4 linked regions of the Homo sapiens genome follow. The protein of the gene in region 1 purifies or fractionates together with the protein of each later gene. This does not show direct contact. Each region holds a gene or a part of one and is shown on either strand. Other genes may lie near its edges. The genes, in order: TSPAN3, NDFIP1, PI4K2A and UGCG.

Region 1 (7,025 bases):
GCACAAATGTGAAATATCTTAAAGAGATTTCATTCTTATATGAGATTGCTTTTTCCATAGCTTAGAAACTAGTTTTTGGGGGGGTAATTTTCAAATATTCTATGAAAGAGACAAGTAGATAAAATGTTAAAATCTGGGCCAGGCGCAGTAGCTCACACCAGTAATCCCAGCACTTTGGGAGGCCAAGGCCGGCAGATCATCTGAGGTCATGAATTCGAGACCGGCCTGACCAACATGCAGAAACCCCGTCTCTACTAAAAATACAAAATTAGCCGGGCGTGGTGGCACATGCCTGTAATCCCAGCTACTCAGAAACGCTGAGGCAGGAGAATCGCTTGAACCTGGAAGGCAGAGGTTGCAGTGAGCCGAGATTGCGCCACTGCACTCCAGCCTGGGCAACAAGAGCAAAACTCAGTCTCAAAAAATTAAAAAAAAAAAAGTTAAAATCTGTAAAACTATTAAATTCCTTTTCATCAACCACGGTGTAACCTGCCATTGGAATGTGGCAATATTAAAAATGAAACAGATTTGCTACAAGTGGGGAGATAAAGTAGCTCTGTTGCCAAAAGTATACCTACATGGAGATTTAGAAATACAAAGGCGAAAGCATCCCACAGGACATTTTGGGCGAAGCTGAAGCAAAGAATAGAAGTGATTTTCTTGCAGTGGTATGTAGTAGCCATTGATGATGATTCCCATCTAGAACTGGCAAGAATCAAAACAATGTAAAGACAAGGCACCATCTGGACTTTATTCACCTAAAAGCACAGTGCCTGACAAATTCTTGCTTGCCTGTGTGAACTGCTCCCTTCGGAGTGATTTTTGCCAAAGAATCAATTAGTAAAGTAGAAGTGACTGGAGTGTTGAGAGAAAGGAAAAAAGTCAAGAAGTAAAAGACTGAGCAAAAAATGCTGTACTCTAGACTTTGTAAGAAAGCAGGTTTTAAAAGCAGAGGGAAAAAATAGGCAGGAATCCATCTTATGCATATATCTTTTTAACATTAAATCCAGAGTTTCCTGTACTGTCATATTATTTTTCATATACCTCTTTTCTCTCCTGGGAAGAATCGTTGGTAATTCCACACAGTGGATTTCTGAAAGCTTCCCCAAACTTCACCCTTATGCCATTACAAGTGTCTTAAAATCATCTTAAATCGTTTAGCATTCTACTTGCCATAATGTATATTCTCTAATTCAACCATGCTTTCACCTCTGACTTAATCTGATAGAACAGTTTACGTCACTAAACACAACTACTTCTTATGTAAGTCCACTACCTGAATATATCATTTACTCTCCTACCAACTCTCAAGGAAAAAAGGCCATTCCAAAGACTCCAAATCCTCTTTCAGAAATTAAAGCTACTCTTACCAAGAATTTCTGAAGCTATTAAATACTATCATTTTCTACCTAACAAACTGATCAGCAATAAAGTTAAGGAGTATTCAAAGATGTGTGAGGGTGCAGAGAGAAGGGCCCTCAGATGGGCGGAAGCACAAACTAATAGAGAATCATTTTTTTGGAAACAATCTGGCAATACATATCTGCCTCAGCATTGATGCCTTTATACCTACTTATTCCACTTCCAGGAATCTATCCTTTAGAAAGTTAGTCAGAAACACAGATTTGTGTAAAAGGTAATTCATCGAGATGTTGTAATGAAATTGTGGCTGCAAAAATGAAAATGAAAAAGCCCTGGTATTCAGAGGTGTGTCTGCATTCAGCCCTGAAATATTTTCTTAAAGCATCATTTAATAATATGCTTGTGGTGTGATAGGGGAAAAAACACATATATCACATATTGGAAACAAACCAAAATGTTGATATTGGTTGTCTCTGGGTGGTAGAATTATGGGTGATACCAGTTTGCTTTTTAAAATACTTTTAGTGTCTTCTTTAAAATATATTACTTGCATAATTAGAATAATAGTTAAAATTATGTCTGAAATTGAGGCTTTAATGTTCTCTCACCAATGAATTCATTCCTGGATGTGTCCTTAACCAACCAAAAACAGACACCTCTTCCATCCTAAATATTTTAGGCACCTCTGCCAATCTCTCCCACTTACCACTTTTCTCAGGTCTGTGTGGCTTTGACTCATCCTGTACATGTTTTCTGATTATCTAACACAATTCTTTCAATGTACATTATGTTCCTTTTCTCATAAATATTACTTTTCAAGGAGACAAGTTTTTTTTAAAGTCCTACTTAAATTGGGGTGTAAAGTTTTATGTGTGTTTTTTTAACTCACCACTATACTAATGAGAAAATTCTATTTTTTTTTTTTAAGACAGGGTCTTGCTATGTTGCCCAGGCTGGCCTCAGACTCCTTCCCTCAGGGGATCCTCTCATCTCAGTCTTACTTGTAGCTAGGATTACAGGCATGTGCCACCAAGCCTGGCTAAGAGTTTAAAGTTCTGACAAGCCACTTTTGCCATCAACATCACTATTATTATTGCCATTATTCTTAAATTAGAAATATTTTAATCCTTTTTACTGCTATTACTCTGATGATATGCCAAAGGTCATGCTCCTCAATTCTGCCTTATTTTCACCTTTTCTCTATTTGGTTTTTCATAATCATTATTAAACCAGCTTAACAAAGTTGTTCTATTTAATCCAATATCTACTGGCTGAACAACTCAAAATTTCAGGTGGCAAAGAAACTGGAGATTAACCAATTGCCATTGCCAAATTATTGTAACAGCATGGAAACTGGCTGTTTCCAGACAGTAGGGCTCCAGAGGTTATCTGAGAAGCCTGAAATTTAAATATGCATTTTCTTTGAGACCCTCTGTTACCCCACCCTACTCTAATTGTAAAAAGAGTCCATTACAACATCATAGGAGCCTGAGGTGCTTAAGCTTTGTAATGCTAGAGTTCATCCACACTTGGGTTATGTGTTTAATCAGTAGCAACAACAATGTAAGTTACAAAATGTCAACATTTATTCTAGAACCCCTTTAGTAGATTACAAACTACACATAAATGCAGATAATTTTTCTTACCTATTAACTCTGCCTAACTACTAAAAGGAAGACAGTGAGGAGAAGGAAGAGGAAGAAGATATGTCAATATTTTTCAATAAAGACTTACTTGAGACCAGCCATGAGTAAGATTTCTGGGGGAAAGGTGCATGTAGAAATTTAATTCGATGAAAAGTCTACCCTCTCTCCCCATTAGCTGTCAGACTACAGGGACTGTGTTTACTCTATTTCTCAAAAAAAGGTCAAGGGTAGATATTCAACACACATTTACTCATGAATGATTCTTAGTACACCCGTCTGGTCTAAGTACAAACTTTATGGAATACATTTTCTGAAAAAAAAAATCAAACAAGCCTAACCTGAATTGGATCTTATGGAATAAAATTCATTAAATTATTTCAAAGCATGATAAATATCCTAGAAAGCTAATAACCCATTCCCTAAACTGCAACTAGAGAGAGCGCCCCTGCTGATTCCAAGTTCTAAATGATTACTCAGGGCCACAAGGCTCTTGGTCAGTGGACAGGTGACTAAGAATGTAGTAAGAGTGGAAACATTCATTTTCTTAACTGTTGAAGACAAACTAAGACAGACACTTCCTATTATGTACTTGCTTCCTGACAAGTTAGATTTTCTTCTAGTGAATTGAAAACAAGCATGAAAAAGCAAAGTTAGCTGAAGGTGTGTCCCATGACATATTCTTTGTCAGAGCAGTCATTCATGATAGGAGAAATACAGGAAGTAGAGAAACAAATTCCAGGATATCAGATGCAGGTTCCGGTTTAAAAGTATCATATTACCACCTCGAATGTGTAGGATGTGCTGGAAAACACAAAGTATGTACAAGATTTGTGACAAGGGAGAACCACACTTGAAATACCTCATTATAAAGTTTTATTTTTTAAACAAAAGCATGACGGTATAAACCTCTTAGTAATTTGAACATAGCAAGTATATTTTTGCCTTACAGCCTACAGCCTGTTCCTTCAGTTCTGAATCCCCCCAGTCTCCCAATCTCTTCCAAATCACCCAAGTCAGCAACTTCTTATACTCCAGATTTTTTTTGCCAACATAAAGCACGACCCAATCACTTTATCACATCACCCTTTAATTCTCTGCATAACACATCACTCTGATCATTTTTCTTGTTTATTTTTGTGTGTCTTGCTTCACCGGAAAGTAAGTTCTGTAAGAATAGGGATTTTTCACTGTCTTTTCATCATTTATCAACAATATAAGCACAAAGTAGGTGCTCAAATAGTAGTGTTATATTTAACAAAGCAAATTTTCCTTAATTATATACATTCACAGACATAAGCGTGATAAGTTTTATTTATTTATTTATTTTGAGATGGAGTCTCGCTCTGTCGCCCAGGCTGGAGTGCAGTGGCTCGATCGCCGCTCACTACAAGCTCCGCCTCCCGGGTTCACGCCATGCTCCTGCCTCAGCCTCCCGAGTAGCTGGGACTACAAGTGCCCACCACCACATCTGGCTAATTTTTTGTATTTTTAGTAGAGACGGGGTTTCACCGTGTTAGTCAGGAGGGTGATCTGCCACCCTTGGCGTCCCAAAGTGCTGGGATTACAGGCATGAGCCACCGCACCTGGCTGATAAGTTTTATTTTTAAAGGCAGGATAAGTTTTAAAGGTTACATATGGCTTTCAACTACAATTTATATGTGTGAAGTATTTCATATGAATGAATGATGGTTAGTGAAGGTGCCACGTTCCAAAGCTATTTCTAAAGGCATTTATTTAAAAGGCGTTTGACTTTTTTGCGGTACTTCCCCCACTCTACAGGTGTCTCAGTTTTATACTATCACCTCTCAGATGAAAAACAACAACCTAAATAGATATTTAAGATTATAAATTCTATAAGCATGGACAAAGCTTTCTGTTCCAGTCCCTGTAATGCCTAAGATAAATATGAGCAAAATAAGTATTAGCCAATTAGTTTTTCTAATAGGGTTTAAAAAAAAAGTAAAGGTAATTTGTATAACATAGGACTTGATTAAATAATCAATTAATTTACCGGAATAAAAACTTAATGGTAGGAAGTACTGATTTAAACTTGTTTTAGACGAGCCCTCTTTGGTCAGATTAAATGACTTACCAAACTAAAAATCCTGTCTGACCTTGGTACAAAGGTGCAGTTTACAGAATAGGCTAATGCCTATTTAATACAATAGCCTTTGCTGGGCGCGGTGGCTCACGCCTGTAATCCTAGCACTTTGGGAGACCAAGGCAGATGGATCAAGAGGTCAGGAGTTCGAGACCAGCCTGGCCAATATGGTGAAACCCTGTCTCTGTTAAAAAAATACGAAAATTAGCTGGGCATGGTGGCGCACGCCTGTAGTCCCAGCTACTCGGGAGGCTGAGGCAGGAAGATCGCTTGAACCCGGGAGACAGAGGCTGCAGTCAGCCAAGATCGCACCACTGCACTCCAGCCTGGGCGACAGAGTAAGACTTCGTCTCAAAAAAAAAAAAAAAAAAAAAAAAAAAAAGCCTTTAAAATTTAGTCATTTACCTAAAACACTTCTAACCTTCTTCAATAAATCCTCATGGGTCCAGCATGAATACACTTATATTTAAAGCCTCATCATTCCATAAAAACAGAGATCCAAGATGATCCAAGCTGTACATCCTTTCACTTGTCCAAGATTATCTTTCAAGCTACAAATCTTAATATTCTAGAATTTGGTGAGAAACTGTCTTAGTCTGTTTTCTGTTGCTTAGAACAGAATACCTGAAACTGGGTAATTTAAGAAATTTTTTTACATACATGGAGGCTGAGAAGTTCAAGGTCAAGGGGCCGTAGCTGGTCAGGGCCTTCTGCAAAGTCCTGAGGTGGCCCAGGACATCACACGTGGTGAGGGGGCTGAGTATGCTGGCTCACGTCTCTCTGCCTCTTCTTATAAAGCCACCAGTCCCATTCCCATGAAAACCCATTAATCCATTAATCCATGAATGGATTAATCCATTCATGAGGGTAGAGCCCTCATGACCCAATCACCTCTTAAAGGCCCCATCTCTCAATACGGCCACATTGGGGATTCAGTTTCAACATGAGTTTTATAAAGGACAAACATTCTAACCATAGCAGGAGTTCCCTATTTCCATTAAGACAAATTTCAGGATTTTAGAAATGATTGTTTCTGCTTTTGGTTTGTGCCTTTCCACAGTAACATTATTACAGCATTGTTCCAAACTATCTACACCAAATCAACAGTAACGATTTTAGCTGTCAGATAATTTACAGCCTGAGTATTTCAGGTATATATCTATCTCCATGTCACAGTTCAATGAACAAAATGCCAGCAGAATCAGGATATCAAGACATAAGAAAGTGTAGTTTAAAGGTCTTGCCAAAGCAATTAAACTTTGACCCTTGTTAACAATCAGCCATTACCATCTGACAGTGAAGAGCCAATGCAACATAGTTTTTATTGCCTACAGTTGCCCAAGGGAACCTAGGTAAACATTTGATAAGCTCTATGGAGAGTATGTTTATTCTTCCACTTATTCATCATCTCAAGGCATTAAAAGGAGGGAGGGGCCAGCATATAAGAATACATTTATTAGAACTGAAGAATGCATTACAAATTCCCAGGAAGAACCTTTTAACATTTTTTAATGTACTTCCTCATAATGACTTAATTCAAAACCAAACAAAGTGTCATGTAAATTCTGGTACAGTTTCTAATTTTAGCAATCTCAAAATCAGCATGCTTTAGAGAAGTGATTCTAACAACTTTCTTCTCTTTACAAATCTTCTGAAATCACACTTTGTCCTAACATCACAGTCTCTAGAGTATGGGACAACCTGGGTTTGAACGCAGGCTGTATCACACCTTGGGTGTGCTACTTTGGCTCAGTCAACCTTAATGTTCTCCTCTAAAATGTACCTAATATTCCCTGCTAGATGGGAAAGCTGTGAGGATATGCCATGTAAAGTGTTTAGCACAGTGCCTGGGGTATAGTAACTCAAATGTTAGTTGCCATTACCCATCATCATCAGATTCCCACAGTTAGTCCACA
Region 2 (7,025 bases), on another chromosome or scaffold:
TGTTTGAGTTAACGTGATTTAGGACCCTTCTATTTTGTTCTGCAAGATAATTTACATAGTTCTCTCTGCTATATGTGTCCACATCTATTCAGATTGTTACAGATCTTTTCATTCTGGAACTTAGAACATTATAGGCCATACAAACTTCCAAACTCCATTGTTGCTATAATCTGATTCGAAATGGAAAAAAAAAAATCTTCAAAGAAACTTCCATAAAACTCCCTTCTCTATTATCAAATATAACTTCTGAAAAAGAACACACTACACTATTATTCATAATAATCCATAAACTGGTTAGAGGGATCATTGAAATGTCAATCCAGGAGGCTCCTAATTTTCCTGTTTGGCTTTCAAACAACCCACACTTCTGTGCATTATATACTGATATCCTGAACGACTTCCTATGCTGATTCTGGATATACATACACAGCAGATGAATGGACATTTGCAGCTATCAGACTGTGCTGGTGCTGATTTGTGTAGTAATTTGACCATCTTGGTGTATTTTTTCTTCATATTTCTTAAATAGAAAATGAAAAAAATCAAATGGCTGATATCATAAAAACAACTGGTCTCTAAATTTAAGATTGAGACAAGAATAGAAATCAGGAGAAATGAGGAATCTTTAATTTCAACTGACTGAATGCTCACAGGACTCAAACCAGTTGGTGCATTCAACTGAGAAAAAGAACAAATGAGAACATGCAGAAAACACTGGAAATAAATTATCTAAAATTATGTCTAAAAATTGAAGCATAATTAGGAATTCCAGAATGATTTAAGATCTCTACAACTCCTCTCTACTTTTTTAGTCCATTATCTTTTACAGAACCAATGTTCAAATACATTTTTAGGAATGTATTTAGTAGGATATAAGAGGACTTCTTGTGCTGAAAATGAAGAAAAAAATTGACCCAACATTAGTTTTTTAATCGCATCTACTGAATGATTCCCTAAGATTAGAAAAAATTGCCTTAGCAATCAACAAATGCAAGCCAAGAAATTAAGCACTAATCTACAGTAAAAGGTGCTACACAAGAGATATTTATTAATGTTCTGTTGTATTTACAGTTTTAACATAGCAAACCAAGATGAATTACCACTTGGGCAGAAAGCACATCATTCTACATTATAACCCACTGGTTTCTGCTAACACATTGTAAAAGCAAGTAGTACAGTATGTTAGGGATCATCTCAAAAGTTCCAAGCTACTTCTTTCTTTGCTCCTAAGTACCTAATCCTCTCCTTACTCCCAGACTTTGGCCTAATCACCAGGAGACAAAAGGAAAATAAGGGGGGTGGGGGTGGGGGTGGGGGTGAAGAACGCTAATTATAGAAAGAGTGTCAAGAATTACATTTTAGTAATTAAGCTTCATTTGTATCCTAGTGCTTTCTGTTTTATACAGTGACAACACCTTTAGAATCCCTTAGGTACAATAAGGTACCGCAGAATTGTGAATACAGGCTATAAAAAATTAATGCTTATTATTTACCAATTAAAGACTTATTTTTGACCACACCTTAAATGTATTTTTGCACTATGATTTTGCTTCCAGGTGTTCATACAGAATTGAATAAATTTCTAGATTAACTTGAACAGCAAATATGGATTATGTGCAAAAACACAGTCATAGCAAAAGTTTAACTTTTGAGAAAACCCCTTTAAAATGGCCAGCATTATACATATCTTACAATATTTAATTCCAAGTTCATTTTGAGATGGAGGATGAATAAAGCAAGACTGCCCCCTACCGACTACAGGGACATGGCTCATGCTACTTAAAATGACTACAAACAATATATAAGGCATTATTAATACATCACAGACTTGATTGCAAGAGCTTTTTCAAACATTAACCACTAATGATTCAATGATTACAGAATTCTGCATTAACTATTAAAATTTTACACCTAGGAACAAATAGAGAGAAATGATCTTTTCAACAGTACTTTATTTTTTTAAAGCAGGTGATTATTCCTCTGTGTTCTGCATCTTGATTCACTTCCTGCAGGTGTTCTCTTGCTTCTTGAGAGAGAATTCATAAATGCAGGAAGGCCTTTGCCAGAAAACATCTGCCAGAGAAGGATATTGAATATTGAAACTCTAGTTAGCTTGTTATTTTGGCTAAGAGAAGGATGTAGTCACAAAAGAAGGCAGGATGTTTGGAGACACAAGTGCATTTTAACATAGTTTTAAGATTACTGTATACTGACATCACGGTATTCAATAAACATTAAAATTTCAGTTCTTAAAGTTATCAAGGCCTCTAGAACTAGAAAAAACTGGAATGCTTTTTCTAAAAACTCCTGAAGTCAGGAGTCTCTCTTTCCAAACCTCTTAACAAAAGAATACAATGGAAGCAGTGCTACTGCGCATCCCACACTGAACGCTGTCAGCAATGACTGAAACTTGGGACAGAGAGCATAATCCAAGTGCACAAGTAATTTTCCTAATATACCTGAAGATACTGTTTACCCTAACAATTCCACTAGATATTGCACAAGGAAGCTTTCCAGTAAGGATGCCAACCATGTCATGCTATACCTCAACCGAGCATGGCAAAATTAGAAAACAAGGATAAACTCACAGGTACCACAAATACTTTTAAAAAACAAGTTTTCCTAAAAAGTCATTGTATTTGGGGCATGTTTCTCTTAAAATAATACATGTACTTTCAAACTAAATTTTAAGAAAGGAATATATCTGACTGAAATAAATGCTCTCGAAATAATGCCTACGCATTTTACTAAATGCAGTTTTCATCTAATACTTTGAGGCATTTCTGTACTAGTATATTGTTTTGGTTCTCATGAAAATAACTTGGGAAAAACTACAAGTAATTCCCTATATTAACAATAAAAGAAGAACTATTAAGAATAAAAGAAGAAACACTAAAGAGATACATTTACTGCTTAATAAACATTTATTGAGAAACTATTTTGTGGTACTCAGCAAGAAGTGAGAGTTGGATGGGCTCAAATATCGGCCTATAACTTACTTTTCTATCCTCCAAATTACTATAAAAGCCACAAGAAACTCTTCTATGTCTTTTCTTTCTTTTCTTTTCTTTTTTTTTTTTTTGGAGACAAGAGTCTGTCACTCAGGCTGGAGTGCAGTGGCGCGAGCTCGGCTCACTGCAACCTACACCTCCAGGGCTCAAGCCAACCTTCTGCCTCAGCCCCGCAAGTGACTGGCACTAACAGGCGTGCACCACTATGCCCGGTGTCTTCTGTATCTTTTCTGATTAGATTACTGCGTAAGTATTTAAAAGGCTGCCAAAATGGAGAGAGACTACAAACACACTGGAGGAAATGAACATATTTTAATATTATCAACATTTTTCCAAACTATAAATTCATTTGTGTTGTGATTTGAAGTAAACCACTGAAACTGATACAAGGACATCTTTTCTTTAGATTGAGAGACATAAGAGATTGAAAGACCTCGGAAAGCACAGAGACAGAGACACAAAAATATGAGGAACTCTAAAAGCCAAGCAGAAGCAAAAAAGAAAATTGGCAGATGAATATTAAATGAATGTTTTTGCAATGAGGCCAGACTCATTATAAACATAAATAATTTGTTTTATCAGTTTCTATATATTTTTTTTTTTTTTTTTTTTGAGACGGAGTCCCGCTCTATCACCCAGGCTGGAGTGCAGTGGCACAATTTCGGCTCACTGCAAGCTCCGCCCCCCGGGTTCATGCTGTTCTCCTGCCTCAGCCTCCCGAGTAGCTGGGACTACAGGCGCCCGCCACCACACCCAGCTGATTTTTTGTATTTTTAGTAGAGACGGGGTTTCACTGTGTTAGCCAGGATGGTCTTGATCTCCTGACCTCGTGATCTGCCCGCCTTGGCTTCCCAAAGTGCTGGGATTACAGGCGTGAGCCACCATGCCTGGCCCAGTTTCTTTTAATAGATGAAAACTGATGAAACAGTGACTAGTAGGTCAAAACAGAGTTTGCAAGAATATACAATATGGTACGGACAATTACCTGGCCACTTCCTTAGTTTATGATGCTTTAGCATAGGTAAACAGCTTTAATAGATCCCTCAAAGTCAAAGCCTGACACCCAACAAACATTAAAAATCCCTTTGCTTGTTCAGTAAGAGAAGTAAAAATTAAATTAAAATAAAATATCTCAAGAGGACCTAGAGAGGTCACCAGTGGGTAATCTCAATCACCACACAATCTCCAAATGAAAGACTGCTAGAGGGCACTGCTGTCTGAGACTTGGAGGCTTGAGTGGCAGTGTTACAGAAATGCTGGCAGTACACAAACTGAAGAACAAACAGATCTTAGGGACTCTGGACCGTATTACTAAATTATAGATCAGATCACTTTGTAAAAAAAAAAAAAAAAAAAAAGGAATCCAATAGCCTACAGATCATTTAATTCCAAGAGGAAGACAACCAGTTCTTCTTGGAGACATGTAAATTTTGTTTAGCAAAAATTCTACTGGAAACACCATTTCCCTATTATCTTGCTATCTTATAACATAGTCCAATAAGTAAACCTTTACCTTGAGATGAATTTCCTTTAATAAAATAAAAGAAGTATTAAGGAACAGGAGAAAAATTACAGAAAAGGAGAAATGAAAGTGTCTGTTATCACATGGAAAAAAATTAAAATATTTGATGCCTAATAGGTACAGCTCACTAGGTCACTTTTTTAATTATGAAGGCCCTAGCTCATTAATGCTAGGGCTCAAAAACCTCCTTTTTTCCTTCTATTTCAGATGCAGTTAAAATAAATAATTTTAAAATATATTATGCTTCATATGTACAAGTGCTTTTGGTACCACACAAATAGTGTTAGATATAACCAATCAACTGTGTTACCACCTTATTACTGTAGCTAACTCCTCATTCACCTGGCAGCATCAGAGGAGGTGGTAATCCATAAAAATGTATTTTCCAGTGAACTGGTAAATAAGAAAAGTATAAACACTTTACATTTTTTACCATTTCAGGTACAGATGTTTATAACAGGTATCTGTTTCTTCTGCTTCCTCAGTCACATACTTTTTTTTTTTTTTTTTTTTTTTTTTTGAGACAGAGTCTCGCTCTGTCGCCCAGGCTGGAGTGCAGTGGTGTGATCTTGGCTCACTGCAACCTCCACCTCCTGGGTTCAAGCGATTCTTCTGCCTCAGCCTCCCAAGTAGCTGGGATTACAGGTGCACACCACCACACCCAGATAATTTTTGTATCTTTAGTAGAGACGGGGTTTTGTCATGTTGCCCAGGCTGGTCTCAAACTTCTAACCTCAGGTGACCTGCCCACCTCGGCCTCCCAAAGTGCTGGGATTACAGGCGTGAGCCACTGCGCCCGGCCCAGTCACATACTTCTTGATGGCCACTGTGCACACCTTTAGCAGTTCCTTCTGGCATTTTGTTATGAAGTAGGAAAACAGATAACAGCTTATTAATACATTTTTCCCTCCCTTAAGCTTAAATGGACTCTGAAAAGGAACCTGAGAGCTGCCCCTATGATAGTAGTACATGAGCTTTAATGTTTAGCTTTTGTAATATCTACTTTGACTGATTAGAAGGAGGTGTTTTGGGATCACTTCAAGATTGGTTTATTTGTACTATATTTCAGGTAGCCTGACTAGAAAAGTCACTATTCTTATGCCCTTTTCTAGTAAAATGCCAAATCTTAGTACAATATGGAAAGTATATTATTTTTCTGTTTTGGTAAAGTTATTTTAAAAATTCTGTATCTGTATCTTTCTGGCAAAGTTATTTTAAAAATTCCCTACCTGTGTCTTTCTTCAGCTACCTTTTAATTGGTGACATCTCCATCAAAGAAGTAGAAGTCCATAAAAGAAAATAAAGCTTTTGGGAACACTGACCCCATTTTCTAAAGTTTGTGTTCTCTGATTGGCCATTCCCAGCTTTCTACTTGCATAAACTCTGTATTCTGATCCTTTTGATGGCTTCAGGTTGACAATGTCAAGAGAGGCAATTTAGCAGAGTAGTCACTAGTTTACCAGTGATTTTCCTCAGCAGGAGTTAGCCTAGGATTTTTAAACTACATTTTCCCTCTCCCCTATCCCTATCTCCCTAGAAGAATCACTGTACATGACAGTTAGAAATAAGATCAAATTTATCCTTTAGTAATTTGACTGCCTGCTAGGCAAAAACTCAACAACCTTCTGACAAAATTCAGAGCTCATAATCTCTACAACATGATAATTAACAATGCTGCAACAAAGAAATAACTGGCCAGGTGTGTAAAAACAGGAAAATGTAACCCAGAGTCAAGAGAAAAATCCATCAATACAAATAGACTTATCTAACCTGATGTTGGAATTAGCAGATAATTACTTTTTAAAAACTGTGATAAGCATAATAAAGAATCGATAGGGAGGAAAAAAATAAAGCTTTCTTACTTCACATGACGGTTTTCTAGTATGTCTTCTAACAAAATTAAACTAAATGTCCTCTGAACTAGAGAAAGAAGGGATTCTACATCTGGATCTGGACAGAGTTCTTACCCTTTCAGTGGACAAAGGGAACTCAGTCCCATAGGATATTATGGCTTTTCAGGTTCCCTCTGGGGATCCCTGGAAAATTAGTGAAGTCATTAGAATTCTAAATTCTGCTGTAAGTTCCTCAAACCCTTAATTTAGAGCTCTGAATTCTCTGGGTGTGTCAGGAATGATTTCAAATAAACCAGGGTATCACAGTTAAATAGAAAAGCAAATAAACTCTATTATGCCCTCCAATGGTGTGCATTCATTTACCTCTGAGAAAGTTTCTGACAACTCTTAACGTACACTCCTGAAGCACCAGCAGGCTCAACACTTGAATCTCCCTTAGTACTTCCTACAACATTATTATTACTAAGGACTGCCTACTTCAAATCACAACCCCACATACATAGTTTTAAATTTAGAATATCAAAAAACATTTCAGAAATTTTAGAAAATCCAAACAATAACAACAAAATTTTCAGTAAAGCACCAAACAACACAGGAAAACTGAGACGTTCAGGCTTTCTGTCAACTGGGCTGCTATTT
Region 3 (7,785 bases), on another chromosome or scaffold:
AACAAACTCAGAAGTTATTGTAATAATGCAACTAACACATCCTGGAAGTTTCATGTAGCATCAGTGGAGATGAAAGAAAGGGGGTAAATATGAGACATATTTCATAGGGATATTTAATAAGAATCAACATAGTGTTAAGAGCATGGAAACAGTCTGCCTGGATTTGGATCCGGCTCTGCCATTTACCAGCTGAATGACCATGGGCACATTACCTTTACCTCCCTGGGTCTGGGTTTCCAACATCACAGGATACTATAAAGCTGGTTCCATGAGTTAATCCATGTAATGCATTTAAAACAATGTCTAGGCCGGGTGTGGTGGCTCATGCCTGTAATCCCAGCACTTTGGGAGGCCGAGGTGGGCGGATCATGAGGTCAACAGATCGAGACCATCCTGGCCAACATGGTGAAACCCCGTCTCTACTGAAAAATACAAAAATTAGCCGGATGTGGTGGCCCGCGCCTGTAGTCCCAGCTACTCAGGAGGCTGAGGCAGGAGAATCGCTTGAACCCGGGAGGCGGAGGTTGCGGTGAGCTGAGATTGCACAACTGCACTCCAGCCTGAGTGACAGAGCCGGCTAATTTTTGTATTTTTAGTAGAGACAGGGTTTCACCATCTTGACCAGGCTGGTCTCGAACTCCTGACCTCGTGATCCACCCGCTTCGGCCTCCCAAAGTGCTGGGATTACAGGCGTGAGCCACTGTGCCTGGCCAAAAAATTTTTTTAGATAAAATAAAAGACTCTGAGGGGTTTCTGTGGAGAAAAAACTCAGAATTCCAGGGAGAACTCTAAATCTGGGACCTTTCCTTTACCATAATTTGAAGCTTATGGGCTAAATGAGATGAATGATACCAAAAGATTATCTATGTGGCTACAGACCCTGGGCCACAAGAGCCAGGCATCAGTTGATTATTGAGGTCTAGATAGGAAAAGGAAGTGCATGTATTATAACTGAAAGGGGCAATTTAACCTTCTGTACGACTTTTGTTTAGAATGGTTTGTCTGGCCAAAAATGTTTAAGACATTCCCATACATATAATTAAACAATAGTGCTTTCAATTTGGTATTTCTAGTTAGCAGTGGCAATAATTTGATTCAAGAAAGAATGATTATGAAATATTGGTGACTATGTGACTGGCCATGATTCGTGAAAGCCCATACCTCTAGTCTGCTGGTGACTTTAAGCATAAAAACAAAAACAACATCAACAGTAACATCAGCAGTGATTTTTTTTCAAAAAGCTACCATATGTTGAGTGCTCTTTATGTACAAAACACTATGCTAAGTGCTTTATTTTTATTTTTCCTATTAGAGAGTCATGCTTCATATGCTAAGTGCTTTACATAACATTATATTGATTCTTGATTCAGTAATCATGGGGATGATTATTCCCATTTTATAGATTAAGGAACTGAGGCTTAGAGAGGTTATATAACTTGTCTAAAACAACTGATCATCATGGAGACTGGATTCAAACTCAAATGTCTCTGATTTCCAAGCCCATGCTTCCAACCATTACATTTTACACTTTTTTTTTGAAACGGAGTCTGGCCCTGTTGCCTAGGCTGGAGTGCAATGGCACGATCTCAGCTCACTGCAACCTCCACCTCCCAGGTTCAAGCGACTCGCCTGCCCCAGCCTCCGTAGTACCTGGGATTACAGGCGCCTGCCACCATGCCTGGCTAATTTTTTGTAGTAGAGACGAGGTTTCACCATGTTGGACAGGCTGGTCTCAAACTCCTGACCTTGTGATCCACCCGCCTTGGTCTCCCCTAGGATTACAGGTGTGAGCCACCAAGCCTGGATGTACATTCTACACTTTTGAAGGTAGTGTTTGCATACATTTTTTTTTGAGACGGATTCTTGTTCTGTCGCCTAGGCTGGAGTGCAGGGGTACGATCTCAGCTCACTGCAACCTCCACCTCCCAGGTTCAAGCGATTCTCACACCTCAGCCTCCCAAATAGCTGGGATCATAGGCGTGTGCCACCAAGCCCAGCTAATTTTTTTTTTTTTTTTGTATTTTTAGTAGAGACAGGGTTTCGCCATGTTGGCCAGGCTGGTCTTGAACTCCTGACCTCAGGTGATCCACCCGCCTCAGCCTCCCAGAGTGCTAGGATTATAGGCGTGAGCCATCGTACCTGGCTTGTTTGTATAAATTTTAACTGAAACAGTATTCCATGAATTTATTATTATTATTATTTTTTCAGATGGAGTTTCGCTCTTGTTGTTCCAGGCTGGAGTGCAGTGGCACAATCTCTGCTCACTGCAACCTCCTTCTCCCAGGTTCAAGCAATTCTCCTGCCTCAGCCTCCCAAGTAGCTGGGATTACAGGCATGTGCCACCAAGCCCGGCTAATTTTTGTATTTTTAGTAGAGACGGGGTTTCACCATGTTGCCCAGGCTGGTCTCGTTCTGTTCTACTTTCCAGGCCCTTGGTAACCCAGTTTAACTCTGCTTCCCCTCGAATCAAGAAGGTTGCTCTCTGTTCCCTATATGCCCTAGCCTTCCTCTTTTACTCAGGTAACTCCTGCTTGGTGTAACATTTTTTTCCTGTCTCCTTTTTTTCCAGCAATCTAATTACTCTTTCTTTAAGACTCAGCTCATAGCACATGACCCACTTAAAGCCTTTGCTTGATCCTTGAGCATTCTGGTTGAAAAAAAAAATTAGAAAAAAAATAAAGCCTTTGCTGAGCCTGCAGCCTGCCTCAGTTAATTGGTGAACTGTTACGGAGTTTTGAGCTCATTTTGCTTTTTTTTCTCCTACTGCCTCAGAAAGCCACATGCCTTCAGCTTGAGGGCAGGGACTCTATCTTCCTTCCCTTTCTCATGAATAATAATGTACTGAGCACCTACTGTGTCTAGACACTGAGATTTAACAGTGTGAGTAAAAGCAATGGACTCTTACCTCGTGGTAAGAACTTCTTAGGCTCATGGGACCATATTTTTCTTCAATTAACAAATAAGCATTGAGCAGCTGGGCCAGGCACAGTGTAAGATATTAATTGGCTATGTATTATTCTTTGTATCACAAGTTTGTATCTTCACAGGAACTTGAAGATAATGGGTGAGGCAGCGAGTCAGGAATAAAATGTCTTAACAATTGCCCCTGGGTTTTCCTAGGAACTCCTTAAAAAAATTAATTTTTAAAAAATAGATGGAGTCTTGCTATGTTGCCCAGGCTGGCCTTGAATTCCTATAAGGTTGAGAAGGAAAGATAGCTTAGAGCAGTCTGAGCTCTGTGTGATGTATGCACAGTCTATTGGCTCAAAGACATGAGTATGGGACTTCAGTCATGCCTTCCACACCCACACTCTGGGGCAATGGTTTCTTTCTTTCTTTCTTTCCTTTCTTTCCTTCCCTTTCTTTTCTTTATTTCTTCCTGCCCCTCTCCCTCTCCCTTTCTTTCTTTCTCTTTCTCTCTTTTTCTTTCTTTCTTGACAGAGTTTCTCACTGCAACCTCTGCCTCCTGGGTTCAAGCGATTCTCCTGCCTCAGCTTCCCGAGTAGCTGAGATTATAGGCATGTGCCACCATGCCCGGCTAATTTTGTATTTTTAGTAGAGACAGGGTTTCTTCATGTTGGTCAGGCTGGTCTTGAACTCCCGACCTCAGGTGATCCGCCTGCCTCAGCCTCCCAAAGTGCTGGGATTACAGGCGTGAGCCACTGTGCCTGGCGGGTTTTTTTCTTTTAAAAATTTTTTATTTTTTGGCTGCACTGTGGGTGGTTCACACCTGTAATCCCCCAGCACTCTGGGAGACTGAGGGAGGAGGATCGCCTGAGGCCAGGAGTTCAAGACCAGCCCAGGCAACATAGAGATAACCTAACTCTAAAAAAATAATAATAATATTTTAAAAAGAAATCTTCAGGGCTTCCTAGGAAAACCTGGAGGCAATTGTTAAGACATTTTATCCTGACTGGCTACTTCACCCATTACCTTCAAGTTCCTGCGAACTTGAAGTGTAACCTGACATTGTTACATCTACATTGGAAGTATGTTAGGTCAACTGAGATACGAATTTGGGATACAAAGTACAATGTATAGCCAATCTATAACTTGTTATTTTAATGTAAATTCTTGGTAAACAAGTTAGGAACTGCCTCTTTTCCTTTAAAAACCTACTTCCAGGCCAAGCGCAGTGGCTCACACCTGTAATCCCAGCACTTTGGGAGGTCGAGGTGGGCAGATCACTTGACCTCTGTCGTTTTTTTTTTGGAGACTGATCACTCTGTCTCAAAAAAAAAAAAAAAACAAACCCAAAAAACAAACCCCCCGCCCCAAAAAAAACGTTTCATCGAGGTAGAGCAGCAGCTTTGTTTCTTTGCTTCACTGCTGTCTCCCTAGCACTTAGAACATAGTACGTGCTCAATAAATGAATGAGTGCCTGACTGAATGAATGAGGATACATAGATGAGATTCCTCCAATCTCACAGCCGGTTCAGAGTAGGCACTCAATGAGTGACTGACAGGATAGTTGCTGTTTTGAAAGCGCCCAAGTCCAGTAAGCCAATTGGAAGCTAAGCGTGGCGCTGGTATAGTAGGGGCAGGGGGCGTGCCTGACCCAAGGTTGGGTCCTGGAGCATGCGCAGTCTTCACAGAAGGTGACGGGGAGAAAAATGCGGAGGCAGCGATTGCGTAGGAGCAGGTTCTGATTGGCTACTGTTCGCGCGCGAGGGGCCGTGCCTATTCGTAGCCAAGTAAACAGGGCAGGTTAGAGGCGGGGCCAAGGAGGCGTCGCGACCTGGTTGGCCGGCCGGGGCCTGGGGGATGTCACGGATTGGTCGCGGCCGCGAGCGCAGTGGTGTGGAGCGCGCCGGGTCCCGGAGCCGGCTGTCTGAGGGATGGACGAGACGAGCCCACTAGTGTCCCCCGAGCGGGCCCAACCCCCGGACTACACCTTCCCGTCGGGCTCGGGCGCTCACTTTCCGCAGGTGCCCGGGGGCGCGGTCCGAGTGGCGGCGGCGGCCGGCTCGGGCCCCTCTCCGCCGGGCTCGCCGGGCCACGACCGCGAGCGGCAGCCACTGTTGGATCGGGCCCGGGGCGCGGCGGCCCAGGGCCAGACCCAAACCGTGGCGGCGCAGGCCCAGGCTCTGGCCGCTCAGGCCGCGGCGGCAGCCCACGCCGCTCAGGCCCACCGCGAGCGGAACGAGTTCCCGGAGGATCCTGAGTTCGAGGCGGTGGTGCGGCAGGCCGAGCTGGCCATCGAGCGCTGCATCTTTCCCGAGCGCATCTACCAGGGCTCCAGCGGAAGCTACTTCGTCAAGGACCCTCAGGGGGTGAGTGCGGGGGTGGGGACCGCCGCCGCGGGCTGAGGGCCGGCGGCGCTCCTGGGGAGTTGGGGGCTTCGCACAGCCAGAGGGAAAAGGGAGAAACTTCACAGTACCAGCCCCTGGCAGGATTTAGGGATGCCACTGAGGACTGGAGCTGGGGACGCTCTGCGGAATGGAGAAATAAATCAGAACCTACTTGGTGGGGGAGGAGTGAGCGGAAAATGAAAAGAGGAAATTGACCAGATACGGGCCGGGGGCTCAGCGGTGTGGTGGGGCAATCCGCCGCTGGACAGAGACTGCTTTCTAGTAGGGTACTTAGCTTCACACTACTGGGACAGCTATTCGGCCGCCGACTTGCAGATTTGGGGCTTTAGGCCTGTTCTCTCTTTTTGGACCGACCGAACCAGTGTGTCGCTGTTCACGGAGGAGGATGGGTGACCTATCAGGGGATCTGAGAATTCAGTTCCAGCCTTCTATGTTGTGGGGGATGTCCCCTGCCACCGTCCCAGCTCTTATTAACAGACGTTGAAGAAAGAATGGGCGGACTCACCAGTTTCATCTGCCCTGGGTATTGCTCACTTCTGGGAAAGGGTTCAAATACTTTTTGACGACTCCAAAGTTTAGATAGAACTTGGAGTTTTAGAAACATGGGGCCATCAGCTACTTTTTCTTTCATTTCTCTCCCAGGGCTATCAACAGCCTGCTTTTCAACTAAGGCAGAGCGTTTGCCGACCTTTATTTTGTCCCCTGCCTGTATATAAAGGGGGATGGTTATAGGATGGGGCATGGAGTGACCAGGGTATCTGAGAAGTGACCTTTATCCTTTTGAGAACTGCAGAATTTAAGAAATACCAAGTCTTCCCTGTTTTCAGGGAAGTTTCAGGGAAATTTTCAGGTGTGCTGCAATGGGTCATTGGAAAGATGTATTGTTATTTAAATTATGGGTGTCAAAGTTTCCTCAGATTTTCCCTGACATCTCTCCTGTGTGAACTCTTTAGATGGCCAGGGTGCTGTTTTAATAGGAGTCCTGAGTGGCCAGGACGGGCTGTTACTTGTAGCTCTTGGTTCGGCTCATTGAATGATCTAGTTATTCACTCAGAGTTTGAGTCGTCCCTGAATTAATCAAGAATTAGAGAACAATTCTGCCATGAACTCAGTTTCTCAGTTTACATAAACTGAGTTGGGGAAAGCTTTGCGAGTAATAAGTCTTTCGAAGTTTCTTTTTCTTTTTTTTTTTCTTTTTTTTTTGAGACAGAGTCTTGCTCTGTCGCCAGGCTGGAGTGCAGTGGCGCGATCTCAGCTCACTGCAGCCTCCGCCTCCCAGGTTCAAGCAATTATCCTGCCTCAGCCTCCTGAGTGGCTGGGACTACAGGCGTGCACCACCACACCCAGCTAATTTTTGTATTTTTAGTAGAGACCATGTTGGCCAGGATGGTCTCGATCTCTTGACCTTGTGATCTGCCCACCTCGGCCTCCCAAAGCGCTGGGATTACAGGCGTGCCACCGCGCCCGGCCTCCAAGTTTCTTAAATAAAAGAGCTTGCAAGCTCAAGTGGGAACCATCATTTCTAGAAGCAAAGAAATGTGAGTGCCCTGAGGTTTAAATGTCAGCCAGAGGCTTGCTTGCTTTCTCTTTCTTCCTTCCTTCCTTCCTTCCTTCCTTCCTTCCTTCCTTCCTTCCTTTCTTTCTTTCTTTTTCTTTCTTTCTTTCTTTCTTCCTTCCTTCCTTCCTTCCTTCCTTCCTTCCTTCCTTCCTTTCTTTCCTTTCTTTCTTTCTCTTTCTTTCTTTTTCTTTCTTTCTTTCATTCATTCTCTCTTTCTCGTCTTTCTTTCTTTCAGAGAAGGTCTCACTCTGACACCCAGGCTGGAGTGCAGTGGTGCAGTCTCACTGCTCACTGCAGCCTTGACATCCAGGGCTCAAGGTCCTCCCACTCAGCTTCCGAGTAGCTGGGACTACAGGCACGCACCACCACACCCGGCTAAAAATTATTTTTCATGGAGACAAGAGTCTCGCCATGTTGCCCTGGTTGGTCTCAGACTCCTGGCTTCAAGCAGTCATCCTCTTGCCTCAGCCTCCCAAAGTGCTGGGATTACAGGTGTGACCCACCATGCCTGTCCTTTTTTTGTGGGCAGAGGGTATTTTTAGTTTGTTGGCAAATGTAAGAAGGGGCTAAGATTATCTTTGATAGGTACAGGAGAAGGAGGAATATTTTTGTTTTTCTTTCATGACACTGTTAGAGCTGCATTGGAAGTGGGTTAGGTCAGCTGAGAAGTGAGCTGGTGCTTTGACAGATGGAAGTAATACGATCTCTTAATTCTACCTGGCAGGTAAAGTACTACCATCTCAGTACATAGGCCACAGAGAAGGACAGACCATAGGTATGTTACTTGGTGATTTAGGGATTCCAGTCTCTAAAATTTCCTGGCCACTATCCTTTCTCATAGGGGAAGTCCAAACACAGATGCCCTGACAAAACTTTTTGACGTACTCATACTGCTTCCAGTGAAGAAAATGTGAT
Region 4 (7,025 bases), on another chromosome or scaffold:
ACTCAAGAGAACGACAAAGTCTGTTATATTTACTTCCAATGATAAGCATACACAAGTAAAAAGTAGAAATAAAATGTTTATAGTGCCTGTGAGCATAATAACAATTGTTTGCCCACTACCTATAATCTCAGCAAAAACTGCCAATAAAAAAATTTGTGGGCCAGGCGTGGTGGCTCAAGCCTGTAATCCCAGCACTTTGGAGGCCAGGGCAGGTGGATCACCTGAGGTCAGGAGTTCGAGGCCAGCCTGACCAACATGGTGAAACCCCGTCTCTACTAAAAATGCAATAATTAGCAGGCATGGTGGCACACACCTGTAATCACAGCTACTTGGGAAGCTGAGGCAGGAGAATCGCCTGAACCTGGGAGGCAGAGGGAGGTCGCAGTGAGCCGAGATTGCGCCACTGTACTCCAGCCTGGGCAACAAGAGTGAAACTCCGTCTCGGGGAAAATAAAAATAAAAGAAATTTGCAGTTGATCACAAAAGAACCAAGACTAAGGTTAATGAAGAAGGTTAGCTAATAAGATTTTTTGTCAAATGAAAAACATGTTTTCTTAATAATTAAGTCGATGAGGAAAACAATGTATATTTTCCTCATACTTTCTACCTACATACTGCTGTTATTATATATTCTATCCAATATCTACCTCTAATGATGACTGACGAAAATTGCCACTCAAGAGGTACTGAAACCAACTTGACAGTTACCTGGTCTCCAGAGACCAGATAAAAATCTGAAAATGGAAAGGGCCCTACTTCTACCACCCTCCTGAGATTTCCTTAAGAGCTGACTCTAAGTCACAGAAAGTGTCAGTCAGCCTCCCATCCAGACTCTCAAAACAATATTTGGCTGAGCCACCAAAAAGGCAATGACCTTCACAATAATGATTAGAGAGGTTAAGTGACTTTTCAAACGGCAAAAGTAACAACGAGCTTTCCTACTATAGGAGGCTGCTCAGCCAGGCTTGCTCTAAAGAGTTCCTTGTTTTTCCAAACATAGCATAGTTTCTTTTTTTTTTTTTTTTTTGAGATGGAGTCTCGCTCTGTCACCCAGGCTGGAGTGCAGTGGCGCTATCTCAGCTCACTGCAAGCTTGGCCTCCAGGGTTCACGCCATTCTCCTGCCTCAGCCTCCCGAGTAGCTGGGACTACAGGCATCCGCCACCACGCCCGGCTAATTTTTTGTATTTTTCTTTAGTAGAGACGGAGTTTCACTGTGCTAGCCAGGATGGTCTCAATCTCCTGACCTCGTGATCTGCCTGCCTCGGCCTCCCAGAGTGCTGGGATTACAGGTGTGAGCCACTGTGCCCAGCCAGCATAGTATCTTTAATGGTTTTTTTTGAGACAGGGTCTTTCACTGTCACCCAGGCTGGAGTGCAGTGGCGTGATCTTGGCTCACTATAGCCTCAACTTCCCAGGCTCAAGCAATCCTCCCACCTCAGCCTCCCGAGTAGCTGGGACTATAGGTGTGCACCACCACACCTGGCTAATTTTTGTATTTTTAGTACAGACGACGAGCTGGTCTTGAATGCTTGGGCTCAAGTGATCTGCCCACCTCAGCCTTCCAAAGTACTGGTATTACAGGCATGAGCCACTATGCCCAGCCTTTAATGCTTTTTTAATGCTATTTTGTGAGTATGAGTACATATGATGAAAGGAAATGTTTATAAGTAATGCAATTCCATAAAGTACAATAAAAAACTAATCTTAGCTTTTATTTTCCCCAGCAAGAGAAAACTTTGTAAAAATATAGTACTAGAAATATACTCAATGGGAAGAAAAATGCTATACTAGTGTTAAGTAGGGAGGTTATAAGTAAGGGAGGTACAGTCTGCCTTTATTCAGATGCAAGGTTTGAAGTGTTTTTTTTTGTTTTTTTGTTTTTTGTTTTTTTTTTTTGAGACGGAGTCTCGTTCTGTCGCCCAGGCGGGAGTGCTGTGGCGCGATCTCCGCTCACTGCAAGCTCCGCCTTCCAGGTTCACGCCATTCTCCTGCCTCAGCCTCCCGAGTAGCTGGGACTACAGGCACCCGCCACTGCGCCCAGCTAATTTTTTTTTTGTATTTTTAGTAGAGACGGGGTTTCACCGTGGTCTCGATCTCCTGACCTCGTGATCCGCCCGCCTCGGCCTCCCAAAGTGCTGGGATTACAGGCGTGAGCCACCGCCCCCGGCCTTGAAGTTTTAATTTTTATTGATTACACTGCTTAAACATAATTTTTAATTAAAAACAAATACTTTCTGATTAGCCAGAGTGTAAATGAGACTCATATTCATATTATCCAAAAAAAAGTTCAGACTCAAATACATAAGATTCATTTGTTTTTGATATTGGAAATTACACCAAATTGGAGGCAGCATTCCAAGTATTTTCTAAAGTATCAGATTTTAACCAGGAATCATTTTTCAGCTATCAGCTCTGTGTCTTCACAATTTGATGAGATATTTTATTTGCTAAGAATCCCTGTATTAAAATTGTTAAATCAGGCCAGGCACGGTGGCTCACACCTGCAATCCCAGCACTTTAAGAGGCGGAGGCAGGGGAATCAACTGAGGTCAGGAGTTCAAGACCAGCCTGGCCAACATGATGAAATCCTCTCTCTACTAAAAATATAAAAATTAGCCAGCGGTAGTGGCATGCGCCTGTAATCCCAACTTCTCGGGAGGCTGACACGGGAGAATTGCTTGAACCCGGGAGGCGGAAGTGGCAGTGAGCCGAGATTGTGGCATTGTACTCCAGCACAGGTGACAGAGCAAGACTCTGCCTCAAAAGGAAAAAAAAAATCAATTCTATAATTGCAAAAAAGAAAAAAAAATCATAGTTATGACAGGTTCACTGTTAAGAACTCTGATAGTTGATTTAGGTATTCTTCACATGGCCAGAATTTACTGAAGTAAAGCCAGCAAGCCACTTTAGACGCAGATTATTGACTATTACTGCTACTGCTTAATCTCTCCCCAAATCCCTTCTACGCTGGTGACAAATGAGTGTTCAATGCTGTGGAAAATGAACTGCATCACCTTTTCATTCTTTTATGTCTTCCCAAGGAATGAGTATCAGTATAAAAGTAGACTTGTAAGATGAATACAGCGCAGAGATCTTTCAGAGCAACTAGTCTAGTCTCACCAAAATTGAAACCTAGAAATTCAGAGCAAGTACCAGTAGCAGTAAATTTTCTTGCACATGTCCAAAATTAAGTAAAATTTTAAAACTTGAAGATATGTTTTATTATTTTCCCCCAAATGGCCTATGATAGTCCCAATCGAATATTAGAAGAGAAAGTTATGTCCAAAATGAAAACATTTCCATACTCTGGTAAAACGATGTTCACACCAGGCAAAATGCAAATATGAAAGGGCACTGCGCCTGGCAGTCACGTAAATGTTTATTTTGGGTCTCCTTGACTTCTTGGTGACACAAATGCCTTGTCTGTTCATGCTCAGATATGCGTGATTTCAGTGGTTTAACTTTAGTCTCCTGTGGAACATTTGCCATTGTATTTGGTTTTCACCAAGTAAATAAAATGCTGTGAAATCAAATATTTCCCTTAGATTGCAGGTACTTTGCACTTCTCCTCTGCTTTCCAAACTTTCTATTTATACAGCTAAATATAAGTTTATAATTAGAAAATAAAATTCTGTACTAACAAAGAATAAAATAATCTGCAGATGCTATTCTTCATCTTACAATGAATGTCAAAATAGCTTTCTCCTCAACCCACTTAAATGATATAACTAAATGGAAAAAGAGCTACTACTCTAAGTGAAAACAAGAGCTCTTGAGATCATTCTAAACTGTAATTTCCAAAACAATTTTTTATTTCAATTTTTTAATTTTTATTTTTTTGAAGGTGGGGGTCTCACTGTGTTGCCCAGGCTGGTCTTGAACACCTGGCCTCAAGCAATCCTCCCGCCTCAGCCTCCCAAAGTGCTAGGATTACAAGCACAAGCCACCACGCCTGGCCAAAATCTTCATTCACAAGAAATCAGTTATGGGGTCATTAGAAATGCTCGTAATCAATGGATACATATAACCCTGGGGTTACTTTTTAAAATTCTTTCAGTAGGGCATGGTGGCTCATGTCTGTAATCCCAGCACTTTGGGAGGCTGAGGTGGGGGGATTGCTTGAGCCCAAGAGTTCAAGACCAGCCCCGGCAACATGGCAACACCCTCTACAAAAAATACAAAAATCAGCCAGGTGTGGTAGCACATGCCCATAGTCCCAGCTACCAGGGAGGGTGAGGTGGGAGGACTGGTTGAGCCTGGGAGGCTGAGGCTGCAGTGAGCCACGACTGTGCCACTATGCTCCAGCCTAGGTGACAAAGCAAGATACTGTCTTAAAAACAAAAACGAACACAAAAAACCATTCTTTCTACAACTAAACCCCTCACTGACTTCCTCAAGCATTTAAACCCCATGACTATCATCTCACAAGCACTACAACGTAAAAATTCCATGACCAATTTTAAGAGTGGTTGAATGGGGAAAGTGAAAGAGGATGGTTAAAAAACTGAAATGTGAGATTAAGTTTCACAATGATAATGCATATGACTCTAAGCTATGCTCTAAGATTCATTCATAATCAATAGAAAATTTCTTTCATTCGTAAACATTAATTCTCCTTTGCATTTACTTTTATGGAGCTTGAAAATCTCCCATTTTTCTTACTGCAAAGCTTATTTTACAATTAATTTTATTTATATCTTTCTCAATTACAAAAGGCTAAGTTTTACCATTTTTTAGTTTGAAAAAACAAGTATATACAATTATATCTTATTTAAAAATTATATATTTGATTGAAGTTAACACATGTATTTAATTCAAATATCTAAAATTATTAAGCATATAAACACACACAAACTAGAACATATAATTTTTTTGCTTCAAAACAGCTTCCAATACTCCAAAATTGGCTTCTAAACTCCAAAACTCCAAAGCAATAATATAAAAACACTAAAAATACAACTGAATGATACTCATGTCTACCTACTTAATAAGTGCTGCATTAAGGCTATCACATCTGTGTCTTCTCTATTCTTTTCATTGGTGCTACCGAGAAAAATAAAGGCTAAAAGAAAAGAAATAAGAGCATGAAAACCAGTCACCATAAGAAGTGTAGTGCGCATATCATCTTCCTTCTGATTATTTGAGCTACCCTGTCCAAAAAAATTAAGAGGGACGACTCTCCCAGTAGCAAAAACAGCTATGGAAAAACTGAGGCAATAGGGTAAAAATTGAGGCAAGTGAATAGAGACCGCAAAGGGAAAACTAAACTGTACTGAAAGTCAAGTGGGTAGAAGCTTAAAGACACATTCTTCTCACAAGTGATCTGTTACCACCAAAATGCCCTTTCAAAAGCAGTCTCAAGCAATTTAATACAAAGCTGCTGTAAAGCTAAGTACAAAAATCAAAGAATATTAAGTTATCCTAAGAAACTACAGGTGGACTACTAAAGCAAAGTGATAAAAAGAATACTTTCATCTCAAGAAAACTGGAAGGTCTCCAATTAAGGGAGTACACTGAGTTTACAGATATACAGATTATATAGATAAATGGTATAAGCAATACAATTAGCTATTAAAATCAGAACAGTAAGGAAATTAAAAATGAGGTAAGATGAAACCCTACAGTACCACTAACTGTAATCTATTCTTGGCTCAAAGCCAGTTTCTCCGGAGAAGTCACGTTTAGTTCTGGCTGTACTGCAACCCATTTCAGACCACTAACACTGCTTTCTCCCTCTCCTTGTCTCCTCTTCCTATTGTTCATATCCAGCTCTTATGGAAGAAAATTTTTATTTTCAAACTACCAGGCACTTGACAATGTCTGAGTTTCAGAAGGTTTACTCAGGGATCTCTACTTCACACGGACATATAGGTGGTTAGAAAGGGAATTTACACCCCTTCCTCAACCTATTTCTGTTCTGTGATGACTACTACTAAAGGTTATATTTTATGAGGCCAATATCATCATGAATTTTTAATACCTTCACCTTATACAGTGTTAAAATCCCTAAATGTTTATCATGAGGGGAACAAAACAAAACAAAACAAAACAAAAAACCGTAACACTGAACTTACTTTGGGATAATCCAATTCAAAGAATGTTTCCAGGTTGTTGATTAAGTTAGGATCTACCCCTTTCAGTGGTTTCAGAAGAGAGACACCTGGGAGCTTGCTATAAGGCTGTTTGTCAGTTGCCTTCTTGTTGAGGTGTAATCGGCTAAAAAGCAAATGATATAAAAATTATTTCTATAGAATACATTAGTGTCAAATCAAAGCACTGACAAGCTATCAATAAATCCCTAAATTCTAAGTTAAGATTTTTAAAACTTGACATCTTTCTAAAAGAGGATCTAAACATGAAGGGAAGTAGAACCAGGTAAGCATGGCTTTGAATGCGGTCCAACACAAATTCATAAACTTTCTTAAAACATTATGAGATTTTTTGCGATTTTTTAAAGCTCATCAGCTATTGTTAGTGTATTTTATATGTGACCCAAGACAATTCTTCTTCTTCCAATACGACCAAGGGAAGCCAAAAGATTGAATACCCATGATGTACTACTCTCTGACTATTGCTATACTCACAGAACTATGCCAGGCATAGCGCAGGCATTTCAATAAAATACATGGTGAAGAAATGAATGGCAGTGTTAGCCCAAAGATTAACTCCTCTTCCTCTTAAATTGCCACTGAAGTGGCCACAGAACTATAAAAACAGGTAAAATAAAACACCGTCTGCAGCAGAAAATTATGAAAGGATAACCAGAACTTTCTGAGAAATTTCTTTGCAGTGGGATAATACACAGTTAAAAGAAGTGTCAAGCAGTCTGCATGGCAAGCAAGATAATGGGACAACTGGAACTCCCAATATTAATAAGGTCAGAATGGCAGGGGTAGAACAGAAGGAAACTGAAAGTAAGAAAAAAACTCAATGATGAGAAAAATGTCTATTAATGACACTGGAAGATATACCAGTGCCACCAGTTCATAGATAAGTGACCAAATGGCCAACGTTCTCACTGCTT

The links.
Region 2: the proteins of TSPAN3 (region 1) and NDFIP1 purify together in Homo sapiens (affinity purification with mass spectrometry; 3 studies listed by BioGRID and IntAct, with this or other methods). This does not show direct contact.
Region 3: the proteins of TSPAN3 (region 1) and PI4K2A purify together in Homo sapiens (affinity purification with mass spectrometry; 3 studies listed by BioGRID and IntAct, with this or other methods). This does not show direct contact.
Region 4: the proteins of TSPAN3 (region 1) and UGCG purify together in Homo sapiens (affinity purification with mass spectrometry; 3 studies listed by BioGRID and IntAct, with this or other methods). This does not show direct contact.

Annotation. Positions count from the first base shown.
Region 1 is NC_000015.10:77,061,110-77,068,134, forward strand, and holds part of TSPAN3 (tetraspanin-3), read right to left. Parts: intron 1-7,025. UniProt on the Homo sapiens protein: Regulates the proliferation and migration of oligodendrocytes, a process essential for normal myelination and repair.
Region 2 is NC_000005.10:142,146,779-142,153,803, reverse strand, and holds part of NDFIP1 (NEDD4 family-interacting protein 1), read right to left. Parts: intron 2,074-7,025; 3' UTR 1-2,073. UniProt on the Homo sapiens protein: Activates HECT domain-containing E3 ubiquitin-protein ligases, including NEDD4 and ITCH, and consequently modulates the stability of their targets. As a result, controls many cellular processes.
Region 3 is NC_000010.11:97,635,905-97,643,689, forward strand, and holds the start of PI4K2A (phosphatidylinositol 4-kinase type 2-alpha), read left to right. Parts: upstream 1-4,766; 5' UTR 4,767-4,838; coding exon 4,839-5,273; intron 5,274-7,785. UniProt on the Homo sapiens protein: Membrane-bound phosphatidylinositol-4 kinase (PI4-kinase) that catalyzes the phosphorylation of phosphatidylinositol (PI) to phosphatidylinositol 4-phosphate (PI4P), a lipid that plays important roles in endocytosis, Golgi function, protein sorting and membrane trafficking and is required for prolonged survival of neurons.
Region 4 is NC_000009.12:111,913,797-111,920,821, reverse strand, and holds part of UGCG (ceramide glucosyltransferase), read right to left. Parts: intron 6,218-7,025; coding exon 6,076-6,217; intron 5,064-6,075; exon of another isoform or gene 4,986-5,063; intron 1-4,985. UniProt on the Homo sapiens protein: Participates in the initial step of the glucosylceramide-based glycosphingolipid/GSL synthetic pathway at the cytosolic surface of the Golgi.